4 separate regions of the Homo sapiens genome follow, and all the other regions are reported to be linked to region 2. Evidence: microRNA targets listed by miRTarBase, many of them from high-throughput screens and not tested one by one. Region 2 holds a microRNA gene; each other region holds the end of a gene's coding sequence.
The links. The annotated mature microRNA hsa-miR-921 reads CUAGUGAGGGACAGAACCAGGAUUC and lies in region 2 at 1,058-1,082, opposite strand. An mRNA with a match to its seed (bases 2 to 7 or 8) in the 3' UTR can be bound and repressed. Matches are read on the target gene's strand: a 7mer-m8 pairs with bases 2 to 8, a 7mer-A1 pairs with bases 2 to 7 and ends in A, and an 8mer does both.

Region 1: miRTarBase lists NR6A1 as a target of hsa-miR-921. Seed matches in the 3' UTR shown: 7mer-A1 at 2,054-2,060 and 7mer-m8 at 1,179-1,185.
Region 3: the mRNA of G2E3 is a reported target of hsa-miR-921. Seed matches in the 3' UTR shown: 7mer-A1 at 520-526.
Region 4: the mRNA of PTCHD3 is a reported target of hsa-miR-921. Seed matches in the 3' UTR shown: 7mer-A1 at 1,616-1,622.

Annotation. Positions count from the first base shown.
Region 1 is chr9:124,520,099-124,523,336 of GRCh38, forward strand. NR6A1 (nuclear receptor subfamily 6 group A member 1) reads right to left here. Exons shown (of 10, transcript NM_033334.4): 10 at 1-2,695. The coding sequence ends at 2,607. Among named protein-coding and RNA genes, the nearest start is that of NR5A1, 14 kb to the left of the region's middle.
Region 2 is chr1:166,153,716-166,156,953 of GRCh38, forward strand. MIR921 (microRNA 921) reads right to left here and starts at 1,083; the gene lies at 1,028-1,083. The region is part of intron 1 of FAM78B (family with sequence similarity 78 member B); the gene reads right to left.
Region 3 is chr14:30,616,077-30,619,314 of GRCh38, forward strand. G2E3 (G2/M-phase specific E3 ubiquitin protein ligase) reads left to right here. Exons shown (of 15, transcript NM_017769.5): 15 at 202-3,238. The coding sequence ends at 458. Among named protein-coding and RNA genes, the nearest start is that of SCFD1, 4.6 kb to the right of the region's middle.
Region 4 is chr10:27,395,646-27,398,645 of GRCh38, forward strand. It overlaps PTCHD3 (patched domain containing 3 (gene/pseudogene)), which reads right to left. Exons shown (of 4, transcript NM_001034842.5): 4 at 1,476-3,000. The coding sequence ends at 2,649. Among named protein-coding and RNA genes, the nearest start is that of PTCHD3, 17 kb to the right of the region's middle.

The sequences.
Region 1 (3,238 bases), not on the chromosome of region 2:
CCAACCTTTCTCCGTGTCCTTCAAACCAAATTCACAAATACATCTAGTGGCTGACCTAATGTCTCCACGCTGCTAGCTACACTCCTACCTTCTCCTCATAATACCTGAGTTTGCAATGCAACACATTCACTTTACCCTGTTTAAAAAAAGCCCACGTCATAAAAGGACTGGTGCAGAAGACATTAAAGACGGTCCACAGGTCAGGCTCCGGCTCGGAACACACAGCCACTTTGCTCTGAGATTCTGCAGGGCTCTCGGCAATGAATGGGCTCTTTGTTCTGTGGAATCTGCTGCAAACATTTGTAAAACTGGATTTGTACAATGGCAACTTGCAGAACCTTTCCCCTACTCCACAAATTAACAACTTGCTCTGTTCAATACTACGTTGTTGGAGAGACATGTTCTTGCCTCATCAGAGAGCAATTTCTTTTGACACCCAACACAACGGGTAAAATGTTTAATTTGAAAAGCAATTTCAAAAATAATAATTGGACAGATAGAGGCCTCAGCAAAGAACGATGCTGTACACAGGAGCTGTCTTAGAGAAGGCATCTGTGATATGTGTCTCCTTCCCGATCTGGAGGAAAGCAGCTCAGAGTCTGACCTGTGGCCAAAGAATGTGATCTAGTTGGTTAAATAAAATTCAGGGGAACAAGTATCGTGAACTTAGAAATAAACAGATACACACGAACACACAAGAATCTTCCCACTGACGTGAAAAACATGCTAGCTGGAGCTTTTCCTGAGGAACATGTCTCTTCCTTCTCAGAGCAACTGGGGAAACGGCATTGAGGAGTAATGTTCCGAGTTTTAGATCCATCAAGGGCCAAAATCATCACTCTGCTGGTACCCGTAACATTTCACCAGAAAGAAACAATTACAATCAGACATGGACTACCCAGTATGCACACGACGTGGTGCCCTCCTGGGTAGCTTTACTAGGTTGAGTTGAGGAGACAGCAAACAGCCTTTGACTAAATAGGCAGAAGAAGGTGCCGTGGGCCCTTCCAACCTACCCAGGCATGCAGCCAACTAAGTGGTCTGCTTGCCACACTGGCTGTGAAAGATACCTGGGTGTAGGCAGGACAAGCACCTGAAAGAGTTCAAAGACAGACCTGGTGTAGCGCTGGCCAAAGTCAAGAGGGTAAGGAACACGTCCTGGGATAAGGTGGGGCAGGTAGTGAGAGGTCAAGGAGTCCAGGCCATGTCTGCAGAGGTAGCAGCCGGGCCATTAGGAACCTGAGGTAGTTTAAAGCCCCCCTTCCCTTCCAGGTGCTTCTGGCTCCAGCCCTCCAGGCCTTGGCTGGCCAGTCCACTGCTGAAGTAAGGGGCAGCTGAGCCACTCTGGGCCTTGGGCTTTGTGTCCTGGGTCCCTGAGGAAAACTGGTCTCACTCTGGAGAGAAAAGGAGAACTTGGAGAAGAACTTAGGGGCAACATTTCTGGTCAGCAGACAGGTGAATGGTCCTTCTCATTGTTTAAAAAAGCCTGAAGTTTTCGGATTTAGACCTGAGGGTGCGGTAGGAAGGGGAGGGGAGAGGAACAGATTTCAAAAGGGGAGTGTCTATTCTTTTTGCAGTCTGGCCTTGCCCTACTACCCTTTGAAGAAAACAAGGTGAAAGGAGAATAAATCAGTAGTGGGCACCAGGCTTCAGAACATGGCATTCTGCTCAGCTGGTTTTTCAAAGGGCCAATAGGAAGTCAAATGTGTAAGGGAGTGGGAAGGAGGAAGGTGGGCCTCAGGAGATCCAGGTAAGGAAACTAGGTAGCTGGGGGCCCCGAGGGAGCTGGGAGGCGAGTCCTGTGGATCAAGTGATTGCCAGGACTTTGCCTAGATGGAAAGTTCGCAGTGGTAGACAATGATGGTGGTGCAGGGGTAAGGGGGGCAGCAAGGTGTGAGAACAGAAATTCTTCTGCCCTTAGGACTTGTTGGGTGGAAGGACACCTGCCTTAAATATGGTCACTGTGCCCTACTCTCTTAATTTTCACGCTTTCCAAGGAAAGGACGTGGCTCAATCCTCACCTCCTACCCTGTTGCCGTCTCACCAACCTTGCTTAGTGAATCTCCTAACAACACTTTGCCCCCTTACAGTGTGCCGTTTTATCTGGCAATTCTGTGGCTAAAAAAGGCAATTTGCTCTCTGACAGACAAATGTATGAGTCTGCTGAGAAAATGTGGAAAAAGTAGGGATGGCCACACCCCCCATTTCCATTGAGGTAGTCATCTTTGTCAACATTATGGAAATAGTCATCTTAGCCCCATCCCACCCTCTCCCTCAAAATACAAAAGAACTATTTCTAAACAATGACAACACTGTAACATTAAACATCTTCACATTCTGTAAACTGTAAGAAAATGCATTGGCTGCATTCACACAAAAGCATGTGCATCATGTTGAAGGCCATACATTCAACTCTGTCGTGAAATAAATATATAGAAAAATGAGGTTAAAAAAACAGACAAACAAACAAAAACTCTTCTTGCTATGGAGGCAACGGGAAATGCTGCTCCACAGCCTCCATCTTGGTCTCTCTGGCTTTTCCCTCCAGAGCCTGTCCTGCCCACCCAAGACGCTGTGGTTGGCCTGAGGAGGGCGCCTGGAACAGGTCATTCCTTGCCCACACTGGTCTTGCAGGAATGCAGCACCACCTTAAAGAGGAGGGGCAGCTGCTCCAGGGGCACATTCACCATCTTTCCTGGGAACAAGGGGGGAGAAGAAGAGTTAGCAGTGGTCACTCTAGTGGACAGGCAAGTCAGCCTCCTTGGGCTGGTGGAGGCAGAGTATCACCTTGCTGAGTGACTGGGGCAAGAGAAGTGCCAGGAGTATCACAAAGGTTGGACACACTGGGCTAACATCCTAACATCCAGACCCCTTTGGGTGCCCAGGGAGCCTAGTAATGGTGCCAACTCATCATCATTCTACTACTCAGGGAATACTTAACTCTGTTCTAGGTGGTTAAATGCATTACCTCGTTGAATTCTCACACTATTTCTGTGTACTACTTTTTACCCTCATTTTATAGATAAGGAAGCTGAAACTGACAGGTAGTCCAAAAAACTTCTGTCCTGTTTTCTTCACCCCCTCAACCCCCGGTAGATTTTCTAAGTAATATTCTATAAAATATTGCACTTCAGAATGGTTTAATAGGTTAATAAAAGTACTAGGGGAAAAAGAAGCAGGGGTAAAGAGGCAAATACATTTGAGAAACTCAGGGTTAAAAGAGCTTTACAGATTTCTT
Region 2 (3,238 bases):
CAGAGTCCTCATGACAGGAAGTGTGGAGTGGTACAGAAACTACAGCTTTAGAGTAAGCCAGGCAGGCAGTGATGGCAGGATGCTCGGAGGTATATACTCGTCTCCCTCTGCAGTCCTCCCTCTATACCCCCCTTAGATCCCAACAAGGGCAAAGCAAAATGGGGTGTTGCCTAGACCTGTTCCCTCCCATTCTTCCCCAACCCCACCTCCTTTAGGGTGAGCAGACACAGCACCATTTGATCATGCCCCTATGCTGAAATGCCTCAATAAAACAAAACAATGACAAAAGAATTGACTGAAACCAACTAAAAGCCACAACAGAGACAGGGTCTCCAGGCTGCTAGGATATCCCTCTCAGACTTCTCCCATCTGTTCTGCTCCACAGAGGCCTCCCAGCTGAGCCCTGCTGTCAGGGGAGGGCCCCTGGCCCCCTCACAATCTGTCATCTTTGACGCTACTTGGATCTTATTTCTTCTAGAGCTGCCAGGGGCTAGGAAGATACCTTGCCTGTGTGTGGGTAGGGGCCAGGAGGGCCATGCATGCCATCAGCACCAGGGCTAGGGTAAGGGGGGTATTGAGGGGTGGAAGAAAGGGATTCTGGGTTGTTGGGAATCCCGGCTAAATCTCAATTTCTCCATACTTTCCCCTTCCCTTGGGCTGCCAAGCCCTCCCATCTCCTGCCATCTGTGACAGGTGTCTCTGGGGAGACCCTCTTCTTTCTTGCTTGCTAATCACTGCATATAGACACTGAAAACAGGCTGGACTCTCTGCTCCTGGCAACTGTGTAGACATCCCTTGGGCTGATGTGAGTTCCTCTCTGTGCTGCCAAGGGATGGATTCTTCCTGCACCCTGTGCACTTTCCTTTCCTGGGCAGGTGGCCATCTCTGCCTGAAGACCTGGACCCTCAGCAAACCTGGCTGGGGGGCAGGGGCAGGCAGTGATGAAAAAACAGGGGGAGGTGACCACTGACTGCTGCTTTGAAGACTAGGTGTGCTGGGTGCCTCCAGCCCTGACCCACAGAATTAGCCAGTGATCCAGGCCCATGGACCTGAGTCTGAATCCTGGTTCTGTCCCTCACTAGTTGTGGCACTGCCCTTTTCTGGGCTTCAGCGTCCCCATCTGTAAAAGAAGCAAATGAGCTAGATGATTTCCCGCACCATCCTAACACCCTGTAAGTTAAAAATGATTCTGTTGATCTACCACTTGCATTCTTCTGGCCATTTCTCTACTCTTTAATCAAGACCCTGCTGTGACTGGTAGCTGGTAACAGTCACCTGTGAGGTAGCTGAAAGGACAGAGGACTGCCTCTGGTGCTGGGATGGTCCCCTGGGTCTGATCCCAAGACCCTGGTTTCATTACTATCACATCCTGAGCAGCTGAGTGAACCAGGCAGCTGGGAGGCAAGGAGACTAGTCATTTCCAATTTGATTTAAACCTTTTGTTTCCCAAGTCTCCTCAGCAAGGACGAAAGCAAACACTCAAGCAATATCCTGAATACTTCCTGATCATTCATTCATTTGGACATTCATTCATTCAACCCTTATGAGGCAGTACAACATCATAAGGAGTCACAGGAATTAGTTTGACCTGCTTTCTAAATCTGGCTCTGGCACTACTTAGCTGAGTAATGCTGGGCATGTTATCCGACCGCTGTAGGCCTCCGTTTCATCTCTAATATGAGGAAAATAATGGTGCTACCTACTTTACAGACAGTGCATCTAAAGCATCTGGCACACACTAGTTGTTATCATCATCAAGTTGAGTAAGTTGCTCATGGTTTCACGGGGAGACAGACGAGCACATAGCTGCCCATCACTCAGTGTGTGCAGGTTTCTTAGCAAAAGACAGGCTCCTTGGTTCTGAACGTCAAGAAAATAACTTCAACAGGAGGTTGGGGGTTAGTTTGTGGCACAAATCACTCATCCTTCCTAAAGAAAGTGAAGATGGTTCGTGGAAGCTTGAAACAGATTCTCAAATCATTAAGTGATAACAAAAAATCTATTCTTGAATTGATTTGCCCAGCTCAGGTGTGGGGACTGCCATTTTGGAATGGAGGCTCAGCGTGTGTGGTCTCGGGAGAGGGAATAGAAGGTAAGTAAGATCCTGCTCTCACAGAACGGGCATGTCTGATTCCCTTCACGCCTCTCTTCCCCTACATATCCCAGCCTGAGCCCCCATGCAGAGGGCAAAGCAACATCTAATTTGCCTGTTTCTGGCAGCTCTTGGACTTGCCAAAGCCTGTACCTGCCGCCACACATGCCCCAGAAGCCTCTGCCTGCTCCTTCGGGATGCTGCAGAAAGTGCTGACTGCGGATGCCGATTTACCGCTTCCCATTAGCCAGGCCTCTAACAGCCTCTGAGAGCCTGTGCCGGACACAGGCCCACCAGCCAGCTCTGAAAGGTCAGGCCCCAGGAGCAGGAGCCAGCCAGAGGCTTTGCGAGGCAGGCCTCGCACAGTGACCCTGTTGATGTGCCATCCTTTATTTTGTTTTAATAACAAAATGGCCTTATTTATCTTGTTTTAATCTGACAGCCTGAAAATTTCTCTTTGCGCTTGTTGAAGACATTTAGGTGGTCCTGTTTACCCTCTCTTGTCTTCAGACATCATAAATGATGCCCTTAAAAGTGTCCACATGCTGTCTGAGCCAGAGGTGCCCAATGCACATGGCTCTGAGGATGACCTCTCCCATCCCTGACTCCCATTCTTGGTTGGCTGATCATGGACTCAGTATGGAGGGCACTGGGAGAGGAGGTGGGATGCCTGAGCATCAGGCCTGAGTCTACCAGTGCTTGCCAGGATGACCTTGGGCACATAATTTAATCTCCTTAGGCCTCAGCTTGCTTATCTGAAATAGGAATAACTGTTGTCCTACATGTTTCATGATTATTGTGAGGTTAATTATGAGAGGTCCCCTTATAAAGAAAACAAAAATCATGAAAGGGACCTGCAAAGAATAAAGTACCTTAAAAATAGCTTTGGACACAAATGATTTCAGGTGTTGGTCTCACTGTCCCCCTAAGGTGGAAATTGCACAACCTTCCTGAGCATGAACAGCATGGCTCACATGCTCCAGCATCACCCCACCCTCAAGTCCTTGGCTTGGACAAACTGTAGCTCCTTCCCCCAGCCTGAGTGATACTGTTACCAAAGAAGGGCTCAGGGATAGGACAGGAAGTCCCCATAAGGATGTGGCTAGGCTGCAGGCATCATGCCTAGGGATTAGGAGCAGCCAGGGT
Region 3 (3,238 bases), not on the chromosome of region 2:
GTCCTTCTACTTTGAGATTCATTTATGTACTGTTTGCCTGTTACTACATCTGACTTTGTGATTTAGTTTGCCCAAAACAAATGTGGGAGTCTGTGCCTTTCAGTATTCCAAGTCTATTTGGAGAAGAATCTATGATGATAGCAATATATAACATGGATTTACTTTTGTTTCTTTTACTCTTTTATTGGTAAATTTTTTCAGATGGTAAATCTACAACAACAATGGAAGACATTCTTATTTTTGCAACTGGTTGCAGTTCCATTCCTCCAGCTGGATTTAAACCCACTCCTTCAATTGAGTGTCTGCATGTGGATTTTCCTGTTGGAAACAAGTGTAATAACTGTTTAGCAATTCCCATCACCAATACATATAAAGAGTTTCAAGAAAATATGGACTTCACCATAAGAAACACTCTAAGACTAGAAAAGGAAGAAAGTTCTCATTACATTGGACATTAAAATGTTTCCTTGAACAAAGAGAAGCTTCTTTAAAAGCTGCTATTGATAACTCTCTTTTATTTCACTAACCTTTTCATCATCACTTTGAACAAACTAGTTAGCTTCTTGACCTAATAAAATTTATGATATGAATATAAAGGAATATTATAGCCACTTAGGCTAAAAAAAGGTTTTTTTTGTTAAAGCATACTAGTCAAAATTGGTGATAATTTCTCATTTTCTTGATATAGATACTTCATAAACCTCAATATAAATACTCTCAAAATGGTTGTATGGATTTTATTTAGGTATGGTAGCATGGTTAATAAAAGTAAAAACTGTTTTACTCACATTTTTTGTAAATTAGGATTACATATAGAATGCCACAATTTCTCTAGGTTTATTCAATTTTCAAATTATTCCTCATTTTATTTTAAAGCATTAAATAGAAAAGCTAATTGGTTAAATTTTGTTATATAAATCAGAGTCATATATTCTGGGATTTGTGTTACTATGCATACTTTTCTAGGATGTCACCAAATTAGTTGTTTAAAATGTTTTTAGATTACTGATTTATATTAAGATGACCCACACTGCAATTAGATTATGCCTAGTGGGAAGTATTATATAAAAAGCAGAATTAAGCTGGGCACATGTGCTTGTAATCTCAGTTATAAGGGAGGCTGAGGTGGGAGAATCGAGATACTCAGCCAGCCTGGCAATGTAGCAAAGACTCCATCTCAAAAAAAAAAACAGAATTGCACAAATTTTCTGGAATCTATGGACATTCCATGAGCTTAAACACTTTTGAGGTGGATAACATTTAGTTGAAAATACCTAAGAAAGTGTGTCTTCTTTAAAGCCTTGGCTTTAATCATGGGAAATTGTTGTTGTTGTTGTTGTTGTTTGTATCCTATGTTTGGTATTCTGTATGTCTGATCCATAATCATTTTAGATATTTGAATGATCTCTGTGGATTGGTAGGTTTGGCCATTTGACCATTATTTATTATCAAGTTGGTTGTATGCTAAGGTAAGTTGACGCCATAGCATTATACAGTTATCTTCATTGCTCTTGAATGATATCTGTTATATAAGCAATGTATAAATAAAGTAAAAAGGATAGAATGAAAAACCCATTCTAATGTCACCACTCAGAGATAAGTACCGTATTTCTGTGTATCCTTCTATAAACTCTTTACTTCTGTTTCCTTTATTTTTTAACTTTAATAATGCTACTAAAAGACAATACCTAAAAGTAACTGTACTAACAAAGTGCTAACAATGTGAAAATATATAGTCCCATAGTCATGTCCCCATATTTATACTCCCACAGAAGAAAAAATTGGAAAACAAAGTCTGATGTCCTTAATCTATTAACATATTTAAATGATATAATGGTTCAGTTTTCCATGAAAGTAAATCATTATGGGAAGTAAAATGTTTTAACCATATTTTTCTTAATACACAAAGCAGGTGTCAGCTGTTGTATTCTCACCCTTCTTAAGAAAAATCATTACATTATTGATATTTTTTAAGTAACAGAATAGATTTGAAAGAGATAATATATCTCTTAATACCAAAGGAAAACTAAAACATAATTCTAGTGTACTTTTCTTTGTTCCCTCATGTCTTTTTCAATCTGTACACTAACATACCTAGCAAATTTGTTTTACTTTAACTTGAAATATTTAAGAACATTAAACAAGACATTTCTTTGGCTTTGGTTGAATTTTTTTGTCTCACCAATAGTAATTGAAAGATCAATTATCAAAGAGTTTGAATAGCTAATATAAACCCCAAAGTCACCATACAGTTTTTATTCCAAATATGTTGATAAAAAGATATTTGTTTCTTTATCCACCTTATTTTTATTACAGCTAAAAACCAATACAAACCAATAAAACCTAGTTAAAGCTATTTTCTGGTTTTTAGTTGCAATTAATTTCCCCTAGGGTAGAAATTAAAGCTGATTAAGTCACACACACATACTTTGTTGGGGTGGGGGTGGCAGGTGGAGAGGCAGTGTACTTGGGTTAGCTACAATTAAAAACAGTATTTCAATTCCTCATTTGACTTATTTTATATATAGACAGGGCCTTAGTGATAAGATGGTGTAAATAATTTAGGATATTCATGTTTTAAAGTGAAGCATAAATATTTATTTTGCAAAATGTTTTCTAGTTTGAAGGATGTTCCATTATTACCATTTTTAGATTAATCTGTATGGTCAAGGAATATCAGAGAAACCTGTAGGTTATTTATTTTCTGCAGTGTCATTTTGTCAAATGGTTGGTATTATAATTGTTCTTTTCTTATTAATTTTATAACCAGTGCATAATTCTTACATTAGATTTTAAAAAAGAATTATGCTATAAATCTTTATAAATGTGTACATATATTTCTTAAATATTGCAATTGCCTAAATGTTGTATATTTTAAGGCTGTTTTCTCTTGCTCTTAATGTTGAGGAAAACTATAAATTGATCTATAATGCATCTACTGTTAATGGTTTTGGTTAGTTTGATATTCATTGTTTTTAAACACTTTCCAATATGGAAACTTTAACACCTTTTATACAATTCTCTACTATTCAAGATATTCTTTAAAATATCTCACCAGAAACTTACAATTTTATACTTTGTAATTTTTAGTTTCTGTAATTTGAGGAAGTGACTTTTTTTGTTTGGGTTAAGTAAAAAGCCTTTGATTGATTACCAGCATGAGAATTCACCTTGGTTTCTATTTTATGCATTTGTAAATTTTTCCCCTAATTATATGGAAGCTATTGGAACTTTTGTA
Region 4 (3,000 bases), not on the chromosome of region 2:
CCAGGGAGGGGGGTGTGAGACAAGGGCAAATAAAAACGCCACAAAATTTTCCTACCATTTTTAAGTTGCTTTTTTTCTGATTTGGTGTCCACTTGGTTGGTGTAAACCTTGGACCGTTTTCAGAGTTCAATTAGAGTCTTTTCTAACAGTTGTTGCATTTTTCAATTTTTTTATTTTTGTGATGAAATGGGCTCTTGGAGCTACATTCTACCCCGTTTATGCTGACATCACCCCAAATATTTTTGGTGAGGAAAAGAAACTAATTTGGAATTGACGTCTAGGAGAGATAACTAAGGAGCTGGAGCCACTGATTGCAAAACAGCAAAAACATGGCTAAAGCCTTTAGGCAAGGTCACATTTAAATAGCCAGCGTTTCTAATCATTAATACAACTTCTACACTGTTGCTGTTTTTCACTTTTCCCAACCCATTGGTTGGTGTGATGAGTTAAATTCAAGGCCCAAAACCAACAAGTTCCAGGGTAAAAGTGAATTGCTTTGTTACAGTATAGTTTTATGATGATGAATACCTTCTTTAAAAAAAGCAATGTTGGTTTATAGAGTTTAAGATAAAAAAGTAACCAAGTGTTGGTATGGTGGCTCACACCTGTAATCCCAGCAGTTTTGGAGGCTGAGGCGGAAGAATTGCTTGAGGCCAAGAGTTCAAGACCAGCCTGGCCAATGCAGAAAGACCCTGTCTCTTAAAAAAAAATTAAAACAAAAAATTAGTCAGATGTAATGGCATGACTGTAGTCCCAGCTACTCAGAGGCTGAGGCAGGAGGATCACATGAGCCCAGGAGTTTTAGGTGCAGTGAGCTATGATCGCACCACTGCACTCCAGCCTTAGTGACAGGGTGAGACTCTGTCTCAAAAAAAAAAAAAAAAAAAAAAAGAACGTAACAAAGATAAACTTTGAAATCAGAAAGATTAATAAAAATAAAAGTGGACAACATACACAGCCTAATTTCAGTAATTAATAAAAAGCTTCAGTAATGAAGGCTGTGTGGTGGTATTGGCCTTAGAGCAGACAAACAGATCGATGGCACAGAATTAGAACCACACATATATTGTCAACTGATTTTTTTTTTATATAGATGCCAAGTTAATCCTATCCTGAATGACAGTCTTTTCACAAATGATGCTGAGACAAATGGGCAGCTTTTATGAAAAGGGAATGGACCTCTATCGATACTGCCCAACAAATACATGCGTATGGATCACAGGCCTAAATGTAAGATCAAAACTATTAGCTTAGAGGAGAAAACAGAGATGACTTTAATTGTAACCTTGGAGTAGTCAAAATATTTCTTAGGATAAGAAGGCACTAACCATGAAAAAAATATGATAAATTGGATTTATAAACTTTAAAAACTTCTTATCGAAATATACCATTAACAAAATGCATAGAAAAGCCCCTGAATGGGAAAATAAATGATAAGATGCATTTTCACATATGAATGCATGTAGCAAGTGCAATGAAAATAATATTCCATTTATAGTATGAACAATACATACAATAGTTGAATTTCAGGCATAAATATAAAGGGAAAAAATAACAGAAAAGTTGTACCTTGTACTTGATTGTAAAGACTGTAAGAAAGATAACACTTCCTAATTTAGTGAAGATATTTTAACATAAGACTAATTAATTTTTATCAGTATATTTTAAATAATAATTTAAAATGGGATTTCCAAGTCAAGGAAACATGCCCTTGTTTTTGGTTTGTTGACTTTTTTTTTTTTTTCTGAGACGGAGTCTCATTCTTGTCACCCAGGCTGGAGTGCCTGGTGCACTCCAGCTCACTGCAACCTCCATCTCCCAGGTTCAAGCGATTCTCCTGCCTCAGCCTCCCAGGTAGCTGGGATTATAGGTGCACGCCACCATGCCTGGATAATTTTTGTATTTTCAGTAGTGTCGAGGTTTCACCATGTTGGCCAGGCTGGTCTCGAATTCTTGACCTCAGGTGATCCACCCACCTTGGCCTCCCAGTAGTTTGTTGACTATTCTTAATAGTGCATTTAAAAAAATCAGATTGGAATAGGGCAATCAGGAATTCTAGAATTGGTCTTTGACTTGTTAGTGGATATTCAAATAAACCTTCCAAAAAAGGTTAAGAATACTGGAATAAAAATTAGGCCATGAGCTGCCCCAAATATCATAACAAGAAACATAATCTTAAAAAATGTTCTGAAGATGTATGCTTTCGCTGCAGCTAAAACACACACCCCTATTATTGTTGAAATTGCACTTTGTAACACTGGGTAGCCTAGAAGATACAATGCCTCAACTGATTTTTGGTTTACTGAGGGTTGAGAACTAGAAACAAATGCATAGGAAATGTGTACAGAAAAATCGAAAGAAAACCCTATACAAATGACAAGATTAATCATGGATATGGAATCAAGATTGACTTTCCAGAATGCCATGAAACCCGTTACCCCTACAATCACAGAACCAATAGCAAAAGTCACCCACAAGGAACACAATGGATAAGGGATTAACAATAAGGAAACAATGAACATAGCTGCTGATGCAACCAATACATTTCTAACAGTGTCTTCTAATATTGCAGCATACTGATCAAAATATATAAATGCCTGGTTATACACCATTAGGGGAATTTGACAGTCTTCAGCTATGCGTCGTAATTAGAATAACAATATTTTCTTTTTGGCTGAGGAAGAAACATCTGTTGTCTGAATGAAGCCCCGGGAAGAAATGATTTCATTTGATGAAGAAATATTAATATCATGCTGAAAATTTGGAAAATTGCTTAAAAAATCAGGAATATTGTTCATAAAAGTATTCTTCTCATTAGGATCTTGGCTGTTACCTTTTAAATATTGCACATATGCATCTAACCAAAACTCTGTAAGATTTTTATCTACATAGACATTTTTTTCAAAAATTTTAGTACAGTTTTCCAGTTTTTGCCTAACATCTTTATCCCAGTAGTCAACTTTTTTAGTAACAATAACCATAACCCTGGGACCATAATCT